Linked DNA regions of Homo sapiens. The protein of the gene in region 2 purifies or fractionates together with the protein of the main gene of each other region. This does not show direct contact. Each region holds a gene or a part of one and is shown on either strand. Other genes may lie near its edges.

Evidence for each region. Proteins that work in one complex are often made in the same cells at the same time.
Region 1: the proteins of TOX2 (region 2) and AKT3 purify together in Homo sapiens (affinity purification with mass spectrometry; 2 studies listed by BioGRID and IntAct, with this or other methods). This does not show direct contact.

What each region holds. Positions count from the first base shown.
Region 1 is NC_000001.11:243,644,237-243,651,272, forward strand, and holds part of AKT3 (RAC-gamma serine/threonine-protein kinase), read right to left. Parts: intron 1,802-7,036; coding exon 1,657-1,801; intron 1-1,656. UniProt on the Homo sapiens protein: AKT3 is one of 3 closely related serine/threonine-protein kinases (AKT1, AKT2 and AKT3) called the AKT kinase, and which regulate many processes including metabolism, proliferation, cell survival, growth and angiogenesis.
Region 2 is NC_000020.11:44,064,829-44,070,129, reverse strand, and holds the end of TOX2 (TOX high mobility group box family member 2), read right to left. Parts: coding exon 5,273-5,301; intron 4,419-5,272; coding exon 4,023-4,418; intron 3,401-4,022; coding exon 3,273-3,400; intron 1,481-3,272; coding exon 1,444-1,480; 3' UTR 514-1,443; downstream 1-513. UniProt on the Homo sapiens protein: Putative transcriptional activator involved in the hypothalamo-pituitary-gonadal system.

The sequences.
Region 1 (7,036 bases), on a different chromosome or scaffold from region 2:
CTATACTCTGTTTCTCAAAATATTATGAAAAACTGTTGTCCTTATATGACATTTGGATATTAGTTAATTTCAATTGATAATAAAGCTTGTAAATTCTTGAAAAAACCAGTAGAACTTTACTATCACAACCTAGTGCTAGAAAGGGAGGAGTTCAGATCTTACTGCCTGGGGTTAAGTACTGGCTCCCACCCTGTGTGTAATTAAGGGGAAAATTTCTTAATCCTTCCATCCTTTATTTCCCTTAACTATAAAACAGGAATAATAATGGTACTTAACTTATAGTTGAAGTTCAAAATGAAAAAAAAAATGTTTAAAGTGTTTATGTAATACGTGCTCAATAAATATTAGCTATTAAAGTTAGCTACTATTCTTTGTCCACATAAAGATAATTAAACATAAACATCACTCTAAAACATCTTCTCTTAGAATTTTTTACTCCAACTGAGTCTCCAAAAAGAAAAATCCATAGAGGTATTTTGAATTTGGGGTTCAAATACTTAACCATATCAGATTTACACTATTCTTCATTTCATTTTAAATGAAATAATTTACACATGTACAAAAGAAGCTTTCTTATCTCTGAGTAGGTAGGTGGGTGTAGCTAGACTTTGTTTTTCTTTTTGCAATGATGGAGGAACAAGGCAGATTAAATTGACGTAAAAGAAAAGAGGGATTCAGTTCAACAAACAAACAGAGTAGAAATCTACAATGAAGACAGAAAGGGATCTCAGACATTTGGCCCAGATCAAGTATAGAATATTATTCTTATTCACATAAGGAAAGGATAATTAACTTTATGTTGTGAGTGTGTAACTTCACCAAGTCCACAAGTTTAACGTGGAAAAGGGAGGATATGAACTCAGGCAGTCTATCTCCAAAGAGTTCTTAATCACTGTGCTAATACCAAATTTCATGGATAATACCTTGAAAATTTGTGTTTTCCTCCCTGAAGATTAATTTACAACCTATTAAATCAAACATATTCTAAAGTGATAAATGGCAAGCTTATCTCAACACCTCTATCTTTAATCATGAAAATATCATTTTTGTAATAAGGAAATTGCTTTTCAATTTTCTATTGCAATGAAAAAATTTATATTGCTCATAAAAATATAAATTCGTACTTATTATGCTGGAACACTGAGAGAAGGAAAAGTCTATTTCCCTACTGACTCAGAAGCAGCCATTAAATAAGAGTTATTGTTTCCAAGATTGTTCACTTTCCTGCTGACTTTACTATGACTGAGGGCACCAATCAGGAAGTACATCCGAGCCATTACTGCTCGTGCTTTTCGGGAGAATACGAAATGCGAAATGGAAAAGAACAAATCATCAGGGAAAACATTTTATTACAAAGTTTCTAAAATTGTATTAAAAATAATAAGGAAAAAATGCAAATTATAAAGTAGTGTGATGGCACATCAGTCACACATGAGCCCTATCAGCATTCAGTGCTAAAGTGCTGGATCACTGAAACAATGTTCACCTATTTGGTTTTAAACAACAACAGGTATTTCAGATTCATGTGAATAAGACCCACCAATATATTTACATATCGTAAGAAAACTGGCTGACATCTTTCTGCAAATGGTAGCTTTTAATATGTTTCTTCCAGACAAATGAATGCTGTGCTGGGAATAAGTTATTATTTTCTACCTTTCTTTTATGATGGGTTGTAGAGGCATCCATCTCTTCCTCTCCTATATTATCAATTTGTGAAGTTGGACTACAATTCATTCTCTCCTCTTCTTGCCTCTGCAGTCTGTCTGCTACAGCCTGGATAGCTTCTGTCCATTCTTCCCTATAAAAATGAGTAAAATTTCCCATTAATAGAAGATGGTAAATGATTTAAATATTTTCCTTTTATAAACTATGAAATCAATACAAATAAAATCTATTCAGAGATCAAACACACTCAACACAGATAAGCATACACTCTCACCATCACCCCAAAGTGAAAATAATCCTAAGAGCATTTCATTCACCACATGCCTAAAGTCTGTAGTAGCATTTTTTGGAAGTATGTTAAAGAAAAAAAGAGAAGAAAAAAATTGTTGAAAACTCGAGTTAAAATCATTTACATGAAAAGTTAAATTTTATTTGTCTGTACATATATATATCCTACTTTTTTTTTTTTGGAAACGGTCTCACTCTGTTGCCCAAGCTGGAGTTCAATAGCATGATCTCAGCTCACTGCAACCTCCACCTCGTGGGTTCAAGTGATTCTCCTGTCTCAGCCTCCTGAGTAGCCGGGATTACAGGCGTGTGACACAATGCCTGACTAATTTTTGTATTTTTAGTAGAGACGGGGTTTCACCATGTTGGCCAGGCTGGTCTCGAACTCCTGACCTCAAGTGATCCATCCGCCATGGCCTCCCAAAGTGCTGGGATTACAGCCATGAACCACCGCACTTGGCCAATCCTAACTATTAAGTTGACCCCCTAAAAGTTTGCTGCAGTTTTTAGAAGTGTTTTGCTTAGCTATTTTAAGTCCATCATTGACATCCTGAAGATTTCTATGAGGTCCAACAGACATTCCAAGGAAAGGTTTTCAAAGCCAAAACCTTTCATTGTTTCCAGATCATAGTAAATTTCTTAGAAAAAATTAAAAAAAAGGATACAGCTTGTAGTTTGAACAATCAGTCTCAGGAGCATTTATATCAAGCATTTATTTTTTGACATTTGGTTATCAGACCAAGGATCATTATTTTTCCATGTGAATTTTAAAATCAGCTTGTCTACTTCTTAAAGTCTATTTGGATTTTGACTGGAATTACATTAAATCTATAGATGAATTTTGGGAAAACTACCATCGTAATCATTTAAATCTTCCAATCCATGAACATGGTATAGCTCTACATTTATACAGGTCTTTAATTTCCCAATGCAATGTTTGTAATTTTCTGTGTAAAGATCTTTCACATCTTTAACTGAATTTATTCCTACATACAATCATGCACCACATAACAATGTTTCAGTCAATGATGGACTGCATATACGATGGCAGTCCCCTAAGATTATTACACTGTATTTTTACTGTACCCTTCCTATGCTTATATGTTTAGATACATAAATACTTACCATTGCATTACAATTGTCTATAGTATTCAGTACACTAACATGCTGTACAGGTTTGTAAACTGTGAGCAACAGGCTACACCAAATAGCCTAGGTATGGGGTGGGCTATACCATCTAGGTTTGTCCAAGTAGTATGTTTACACAATGTTCCTAATGACATGTTTCTCAAAACGTATCACTGTCATTAAGTGACACAAGACTGTTCTTTTATGCTATTGTGGAGGGTTTTATTTCACTTTCTAATTGTACTTATTAGTATTTAAAAATACAATTGATTTTTGTATATTGACTTTGTATACTGCAACTTTATTAAATTCATTTATTAGTTCCAGTCACTCTTATTTTTCTGCATTTTCTACACATGCAACCATGTGGTATGCAAACAAGAGCAGCTTTACTTGTTTCCAATCCGTATGCTTTTTACATCTTTTTCTTGCTTTATTGCCCTAGATCAGACCTGCAGTACAAAGTTAAATGAAAGTAAACAGCAGCATACATGCTTTGTTTCACAAGTTAGGAATAACATTGTTTTCATCCCCCTTGAATATTATGTAAGTTGTAGATCTTCTATATAACATTTACTTAATCAACTAAGTTCTATTCTATTTCTAGCCATCTGCATATTTTTAATGAAAGTTTGTTGAATTTTTGTCAAATGTAGGCCAGGTGCAGTGGCTCATGCCTGTGATCCCAGCACTTTGGGAGACTGAGGTGGGCGGATTACCTGAGGTCAGGAGTTCAAGACCAGCCTGGCCAACATGGTGAAACCTCGTCTCTACAAAAAATACAAAAATTAGCTGGATGTGCTGGCAGGAGCCTGTAATCCCAGCTACTCGGGAGACTGAGACATGAGAATCACTTGAACCCAGGAAATGGAGGTTGCAGTGAGCTGAAATCACACCATGGCACTCCAGTGAGGGTGACAGAGCAAGACTCCGTCTAAAAAAAAAAAAAAGAAAAGAAAAGAAAAAGAAAATAAAACTGTCAAATTCTTTTTCTGTATCTCTATAAAATGATCACACAGATTTTTAACTTTATCATATTAATATGGTGAAATTAGCTTAATAGTTTCCAGATGTTAACACAACTTTGAATTCTTGGGAGAAGCTCCATTTGGCCACATAACTTAAGCTTTTATGCTTTTTACCTATTGTTTAATTTGTTGATACTTTGTTAAGAAATTCTGCATATGTTCACAAGTGTATTGGGCTATAGTTGTCTTTTCTTAAAATAGTTCTGTCTGATTTCTGAAATGAGGGTGACAGTGGCCTTATAAAATAAGTTGAGAAGTACTCCCTTCTCATTATTTTCTCAAACAGCTTGTAGAGGATTGGTCAAATTTCTAACTTAAATGTTTGACAGAACGCACCAATAAGGCTGTCTGGGCTTGGAACCTTTGAGGAAAGGTTCTTAATTACTAATTCACTTCCATTCATTGATATTGGGTTTTCTAATGTTTTCTTGGATGTCAGTAATTTGTGTCTTCCCTCTTTTTCCTTTAACAATACCCCAAAACGTTTTTCAATTCTATTAATTTTTTTCAAAGAGTACTTTTGGTTTTATTAATTATTCTCTACTATTTTTCTGTTTTCTATTTCACTAATTTCTGATTGCTGTTGTTTCTGTTTTCTTTTGGTTTATTTTTCTGGTTTCTTAAGATACAAGCTTAAGTTAACGATGTGAGAAATTTCTTCTTTTCAAATACAGGTATTTAAGGCTACAAATTTCCTTCTAAGCATTCATTTAGCTACACCCCACAAATTTTGATATGTATTATTTTCATTATTGTTCATTTAAAATTATTTTCTAATGGCTCTTGTGAGTTTTTTGACCCAATGATTATAAAAAATTATGTTAATTTCCAGTAATTGACATCTATTGTCTTACTGTTATTGATTTCTAATTAATTCTGTGGATTACAGAACATACACCATATAACTTTCATCTTCCAAAATGTACTCAGAATTATTTTATGACCAAGAATATGTTATGTGTATATGTGTGTGTGTGTGTGTGTGTGTGTGTGTGTGTGTGTGTGTGTGTATGTTGGGTGTGTGTGTGTGTATATATATATGTTATGTGTATATATATATACACATACACACATACATACACACTTTAAGTTCTGGGGTACATGTGCAGAATGTGCAGTTTTCTTACATGGGTATACATGTGTCATGGCGGTTTGCTGTGCCCATCAATCCGTCACCTATATTAGGTTATTTCTGCTAATGCTATCCCTCCCCTAGCCCCCAACTCCCTGACAGGCCCCAGTATGTGATGTTCCCCTCCCTGTGTCCATGTGTTCTCATTGTTCAACTCCCACTTATGAATGAGAACATGGGATGTTTGGTTTTCTATTCTTGTGATAGTTGGTTGAGAATGATGGTTTCCAGCTTCATCCATGTGCCTGCAAAGGACATGAACTCATCCTTTTTTATGGCTGCATAGTATTCCATGGTGTATATGTACCACACTTTTTTTATCCCGTCTATCACTGATGGACATTTGGGTTGGTTCCAAGTCTTTGCTATTGTGAATAGTGCCGCAATAAACATACGTGTGCATGTGTCTTTATGGTAGAATGATTTATAATCCTTTGGGTATATACCCACTAATGGGATTGCTAGGTCAAATGGTATTTCTAGTTCTAGATCCTTGAGGAATGGCCACACTGTCTTCCACAATGGTTGAACTAATTTACACTCCCACCAATAGTGTAATAGCATTCCTATTTCTCCATATCCTCTCCAGCATCTGTTGTTTCCTGACTTTTTAATGATTGCCATTCTAACTGGTGTGAGATGGTATCTCATTGTGTTTTGATTTGCATTTCTCTAATGACCAGTGATGATGAGCATTTTTTCATACATTTGTTGGCTGCATAAATGTCTTTTGAGAAGTGTCTGTTCATATCCTTTGCCCACTTTTTGATGGGGTTGTTTTCTTCTTATAAATTTGTTTAAGTTCTTTGTAGATTCTGGATATTAGCCCTTTGTCAGACGAATAGATTGCAAAAATTTTCTCCCATTCTGTAGGCTGCCTGTTCTCTCTGATGATAGTTTCTTTTGCTGTGCAGAAGCTCTTTAGTTTAATTAAATCCCATTTGTCAATTTTCGCTTTTGTTGCCATTGCTTTTGGTGTTTTAGACATGAAGTCTTTGCCCATGCCTATGTCCTGAATGGTACTGCCTAGGTTTTCTTCTAGGGTTTTTATGGTTTTAGGTCTTACATTTAAGTCTTTAATCCATCTTGGGTTGATTTTTGTATAAGGTGTCAGTAAGGGGTCAGTTTCAGTTTTCTGCATATGGCTAGCCAGTTTTCCCAACACCATTTATTAAATAGGGGATCCTTTCCCCATTGCTTTTTGTCAGGTTTATCAAAGATCAGATGGTTGTAGATGTGTGGTATTATTTCTGAGGCCTCTGTTCTGTTCCATTGGTCTGTATCTCTGTTTTGGTACTAGTAGCATGCTGTTTTTGTTACTGTAGCCTTGTAGTATAGTTTGAAGTCAGGCAGCATGATGCCTCCAGCTTTGTTCTTTTTGCTCAGGATTGTCTTGGCTATGCGGGCTATTTTTTGGTTCCATATGAAGTTTAAAGTAGTTTTTTCCAGTTCTGTGAAAAAAGTCAATGGTAGCTTGATGGGGATAGCACTGAACCTATAAATTACTTTGGGCAGTATGACCATTTTCTTGATATTGATTCTTCCTATCCATGAGCACGGGTTGTTTTTCCATTTGTTTGTGTCCTCTTATTTCCTTGAGCAGTGGTTTGTAGTTCTCCTTGAAGAGGTCCTTCACATACCTTGTAATTTGGATTCCTAGGTACTTTAAGCTCTTTGCAGCAATTGTGAATGGGAGTTCACTCATGGTTTGGCTGTTTATTATTGGTGTATAGGAATGCTTGTGATTTTTGCACCTTGATTTTGTATCCTGAGACTTTGCCGAAGTTGCATA
Region 2 (5,301 bases):
CCACCAGGCAATTGGTATTTTTCCAGATGTAGTTAAAACAGTCAACTATTATTTGCCTTTTGTTGTTGTTTGCTGTCGTTGTTAGTATCACCATCTAACATCTGCTGGGAAATCTGGTTTAAAGAATTCCCTGTCTGGGATGCTTCCTACACTCAGGTTTGAAAAACCCCTTGGCCTCCTCCCTGGATTCCCACTGCTCACCTCCACAAGCCTGGGTGGCCCCATCCTCCAGAGGAAGGGCTCGCCACTGTCACCAGCTGATGCAAGTTCCTGTGTGGCGGCGTTCTTGCCCACACCCCTTCTCATCGTCGCAAGAGCCCTACGGGTCTGACCACTGTTACCCCCTTAGAGGGCAAGACTGAGGTCAGAGTGGTCCCATCACCCACACACAAACCCACATGGGCTGGTAAAGGTCAGGCAAGACTTTGACCCGTGTCCGTCTGGCCCGAGGGGCTCTATGCCACTTTAGGGGGTTCAACCCTGGCTCACCAAGGGCAAGGAGACACAGACTTGTTTTCAGCTTTTCAGAAGTTTTATTATAAAGAGATTTGAGAGAAGCACTGGGCACCAAGACAGACACTCGCCAGGGCCAGGAAACAGCTGCAAACGACGTCAAGAACCCAAACCCAAACGAAACCCCAAAACCACACACACGGTAGGATAAGCTGTAACTTCGTTCTCAAGGTTTCTTCATAAATAGACAAAAGTCGTCGCCGGCAATTTAAAATAGATGAATACATGATTAAAAGGAGAGCAGTGCTCCGGGGTGGCTAGCAAGCGTCCGGTCCTTGCTGTGAGGATGACGAAACGGTTTGGCAGCCGCTTTTGTGCGCGTCTCCCTTAAGATAAAACTTAAAAATGTGCTAAGGATCATATAAAATGCTTTTTACCTTAAAGGAAACTACTTTTTTCCCCCACAAAATAGTCTTACAGATGTCTTCAGCACAGTTCTAAAACACGTAGTCAACTACTTACACGGAACCAACAGTTTCTAGGTTTCGTAATCTTTTGTTCACACTGGAAAACCGATGTGCACATCTATGCCGGGGGCCGGCCCTCTGGCCCATGCATCTGGGGTGGGTGTCCGTTGGTAAGCGACCCCGCCAGGGGCGGCCCACCTGGGCTGGGGCTGGAGCTGGGGCCGGGTGTCCAGACATAGGGTACCGTGCGCAGGGCGAGGACAGGGTCCACAGTTACCCTGGAGCAAGCAGGTCAGCGGGCGGAAGGTTCCTGCAGGTTCTTTGGGCTGGTGGTGGGCAGTGGGCTGCCTCTGCAGAGTCTGGTGGGAGGTTGAGGAAGAGACTCAGCCCCCGGGCAATGGGTGTGTCACTGCTCTCTCCGATGGGCCACCCTGCCTCTGGCCAGGGCCTCTTTTCTGCTGTCAGCCCTTCAGGCTCTGAGCAGTGCCTTCCAGCGAGCCTCAGGGATGGTAGGGAGGCGGGATTAGGTGAGGTAGAGCGATTTGTCCCTGGGGAGCAGGCTGTGAGAGAGAGGAGGGGCTGTCAAAGCTGTTGGGTACCTCTCCGGGCCAGGGGAGCACCAGGACCCCTGCACTGTACGCCCCACCCCCACCCCTGGATTCAGCTGCCCCTCTGTGGCTGAATGAGGGACTTGCATCTGCAAGTCCCACCCCCACCCACCTCTACACCAAGCAGAACCAAACCCCTCCCGGAAACCCAGCAGGGGACCACCCGGTCCTCAGCTCTGGGTGAAAGGGCAGTAGCGTGTCTGTCTTTCATCGAGGCGCACGCCGATGTCACCATTGCTCTCACATGGGTTTTTAATCACAGGAATTTGTAAATCTCAAACTGAATTAAGGGAGGACAGGTGCTTTTTATGTTTTTAAAATACGGCCCTGCTGGGGTCTGACCTCCATGCTGGATGTGATGGGCAAGCCTCAGGAGGCTTGGACATTGTGTGACACTCCCCTACATACCCTAAGTATTCTGACTTTTGAGAAGGAAACTTAGGGACAGGAAAGGGCTGGGGTAGGAGGGTCTGCACCTGCTTGGGGTGCAGGGAAGGGATTCTTGCTGAGCTGAGTCCACCCACCCATGTAGAATCTCACTTCAGGCATGTCAGAAATGGGGCATGCGCGCTGGTCACTTGTTCAGTGTCCAAGGGCGCTGGTGGGTCAGCAGAGGAACCAGCCGTGTGCTGGGAGGCCGAGGCTAGGGCTGGGGGCAGCGTTTCTCAGCAGCAAGGTGGCCACCCGACAAGTGCGCTGTGCCTTCCAGGTTGTGGCGCTATCGCTGGGACAGCTGCTTGGCACTACGTCCCCCAGGTGTGGCTGCGGGACTCATTTTTGCCAAGGGAATGGGAACCTGGCTGGCGGGTTAAGGAGCAAGTGTCCCTCCTCACTGCACTCTCCCTCTCCTGCTGGCTGCGGTTGTTGAAAGGTCACTCTTCCCCAGAGTTGGGGTGGCGTGGATCCAGGAAGACTTTCTAGAGGGAGGTGTTAGCATGGGTTTGAAAGGTGGAGTGCAGGATAGGAACAGAGGCCTGAGACAGGAGGCCCACAGGAGGACTAGGGAGGACACTGGGGTGCAGGGAGAAGGGGTCTCTAAGGTGTCTGTAATTCCTTGGGATAGACAGTGGGTCCCTTCTCCCACCGTGTCCCACCGAGGTCCCCTGTCCTGCATTCTTAGCTGTTCTAGTCTTGGGAGCTGCCCTGCCCAGTGGGCTACACTCACCCCGGGGCAGCCCACAGCCAAGGGCTGACTGATGAAGGGTTCAAAAAGCCAGTTCCCTGACCTCCAGGTGGGAGCCACTCTAGCACCGTTCATGCTCCAGGGCTCCCATGGGATGAGGCAGAAGCAAGTCTTCAGCTGAGGCCACATCCCCCCTCAGCTCCTTCCCCCACCCTGTCCTGCCTCCCTCACCCCCTTCTCCTGCAAGCTTTCCCCAGTGCATCCCCAAAGGCACCCAATCCCTGCTGCCTCAGGCTCTGCTTCTAGGGAACTGGCCTAAGATGCAGGACTCATCTGTGAATGTCACGTGGAAGCACTTGTGAAAAAAACAGGAGCAAGGAAGAAGCAGCAAGACTGAAGACTAGTCAGTTTCCCAAGCAGGCCTCAGCATCAGGCCAGCAGAGTCCTTCCGGGGCCTGGCTCTGCGGTGTCATCTGAGATATCGATCCCCTCAGCAGGGCTGACAGTGACTGCAGGGTCCTCCCCTGTCCACGTTGCCCTTGGCCATTCTCCCATCCCTGGCCATCCTGTTCCCACTCTCCCTGGCTGGCAGGACAAAGGCAGGGACGGGCGAGGACTAACCTGCAGGTGCTGATGCCACACTCCCCACTGGGGTAGCTGCTGTCCCAGTCCCCGCTGCTGGTGGGGTTGGATGGGCCAGGTGAGCAGGATCCCGAGCTGCTGGGGAACTCAGAGATGTGCGGGAAGTCCTACAGAGTGGGAAGGAGGAGGCCATGAGCCAAGGAGAGATGAGGGGGCAGACTGTCCCAGGCCTCCCGGGGTGAGAGCCCATGTGTCCAAGGGTGTCCACACCAAAGAGATGCTGCCTCCAGGGCTGCTGCCTTGCTCCCAGTAGAGCACCTTTCAAAATGTTCAACCCTTGTCTTGGCTGAATCAGGGGCTGAAGGACTTGGCTTTCAGGGCCTTTCCCTTTCTGGGCCTCAGTTTCTCGATCTGTAAAATGGAATTACTGAACCCAATGACCTCTAAGGGCCATGTGAACCTCGTAGCAATCTCTGTGGAACAATTAGCGGGGGTAAGGTCTCGAAGGCTTTGGGAAGGGCCAGGGCTAGGGCTGAGGATGCAGGAAGGGGGGACTGGAGTATCCTAAGAGTCAGTCTGGCAACTCGTGAACTGTTCACTGCAGCCAGCACATCTCAGGTAAGGTGTGCGAGACCCACTTCCTAGATGTGGTAACTGAGGCTCAGAGAGGTCAGGTGCCAAGGCTGAGGTTATATCACTGGTGAGTGGCAGGGCCAGGGTTTGAAAGGGCAAAGCCGCTTCCCCTCCCCACACGGTCACAGAAGGGCTGTTCTGCTCTTCCCTGCTTACCTGTGGCCCTGGAGGTGAGGGGCTCATCGCCAGCTGCACCTGGAGTGCCATGGGGGTGGGCAGGACAGGGGGCTGGGGGGCTGGGGACATGCTAACAGGTGGACTGAGGAGGGCGCCCTGGGCGTGAGGGGGCAGTGACAGCTGCTGGTGCAGTGTGGGGCTGAGCGGGAAGGAGGGTGGCGGCGGCGGGGACGCACTGAGGCCTGGCAGCAGAGACTTGGAGCCCAGCGTCCGGGCGAGGCTGGCAGGGGAGGCCCCACTGCGGAAGGCCTGCAGGTCCGACGGCGTCAGGAAGGAGGCCAGGCCTGGCATGGCATACATGGGCTGCTTGGGTGGGAGCATTTTGGCTGGTGGGTTTGCCTGAGTGCTCTTGGTCTCACCTTGATCTGGGGAGCTCTGGAAGGAGACAGATATCAGTCACTGGAGAACAGAAGAGGGATGAGCCAGAACATGGGCTGTGAGGCCAGGAGGCTCTGCAACCCACTGACACGGCTGCTGGCTGGCTGTCTTGGGAGAGAGCTTGGACTAACCAGAGATAGCACAGGGTCCTTAGTCCCCTTGGCTCTGACCATCCAGTCACCTACTGCTTTTATCTTTGGGGGGCTCCCCTGCCCTTGGGGGAATCCATGCTCCTCAGCCTGGCCAGTGAGACAAGCACCATCCCACTGAGCCAGCTCTAATCATGCTCCTTCCAACCTCTGTGCCTTTGTAGATGTTTTTCCCTTGACTTTGAACCACCTTTTACTTGGCCTGTTATAGACCAGTTTGGATGCCATCTCTTCTGTACCAGGAACAACACCCACCTCCACTTGGGCCACGCATCCGCAGCCACACTTAGCTTCCTACGTTGCTGGTGTTGACAGAGGAGGCCGACGGTGTGGTGAGGAGGTGCCATATTTTGGGGTAGCGTGTCCCAAGCCCCATCAGCGGTCAGAAGTGAAGGCCACATAAAACTGGCAAAACTGGGTTTGAATCCTAGTGCGGCCACTTTAACAAACTGGATCTTTTCAGGCAAGTTGCTCAACCCCTCTGGGTGCTGGGTTCTTGTTGGAAGAAGCCAATGAAATGCATGTAAAGTGCCCAGAATGAGCCTGGCATGCTGTAGGTGCCCTGCAGACATGACCATGTAGGTCTGAGCCATTCTTTCTAAGACCTGGGGTGCCGGCCCTTCCCACGGGCCCCAGTTCTTGCTCCATTCCTCAAGTGGCCCCACTCTGATCAGGGCTGTGCCTGGAGATTCCGGGTGTTACCTTGGAGACGAGGCTAGCCCGGTAGGCTG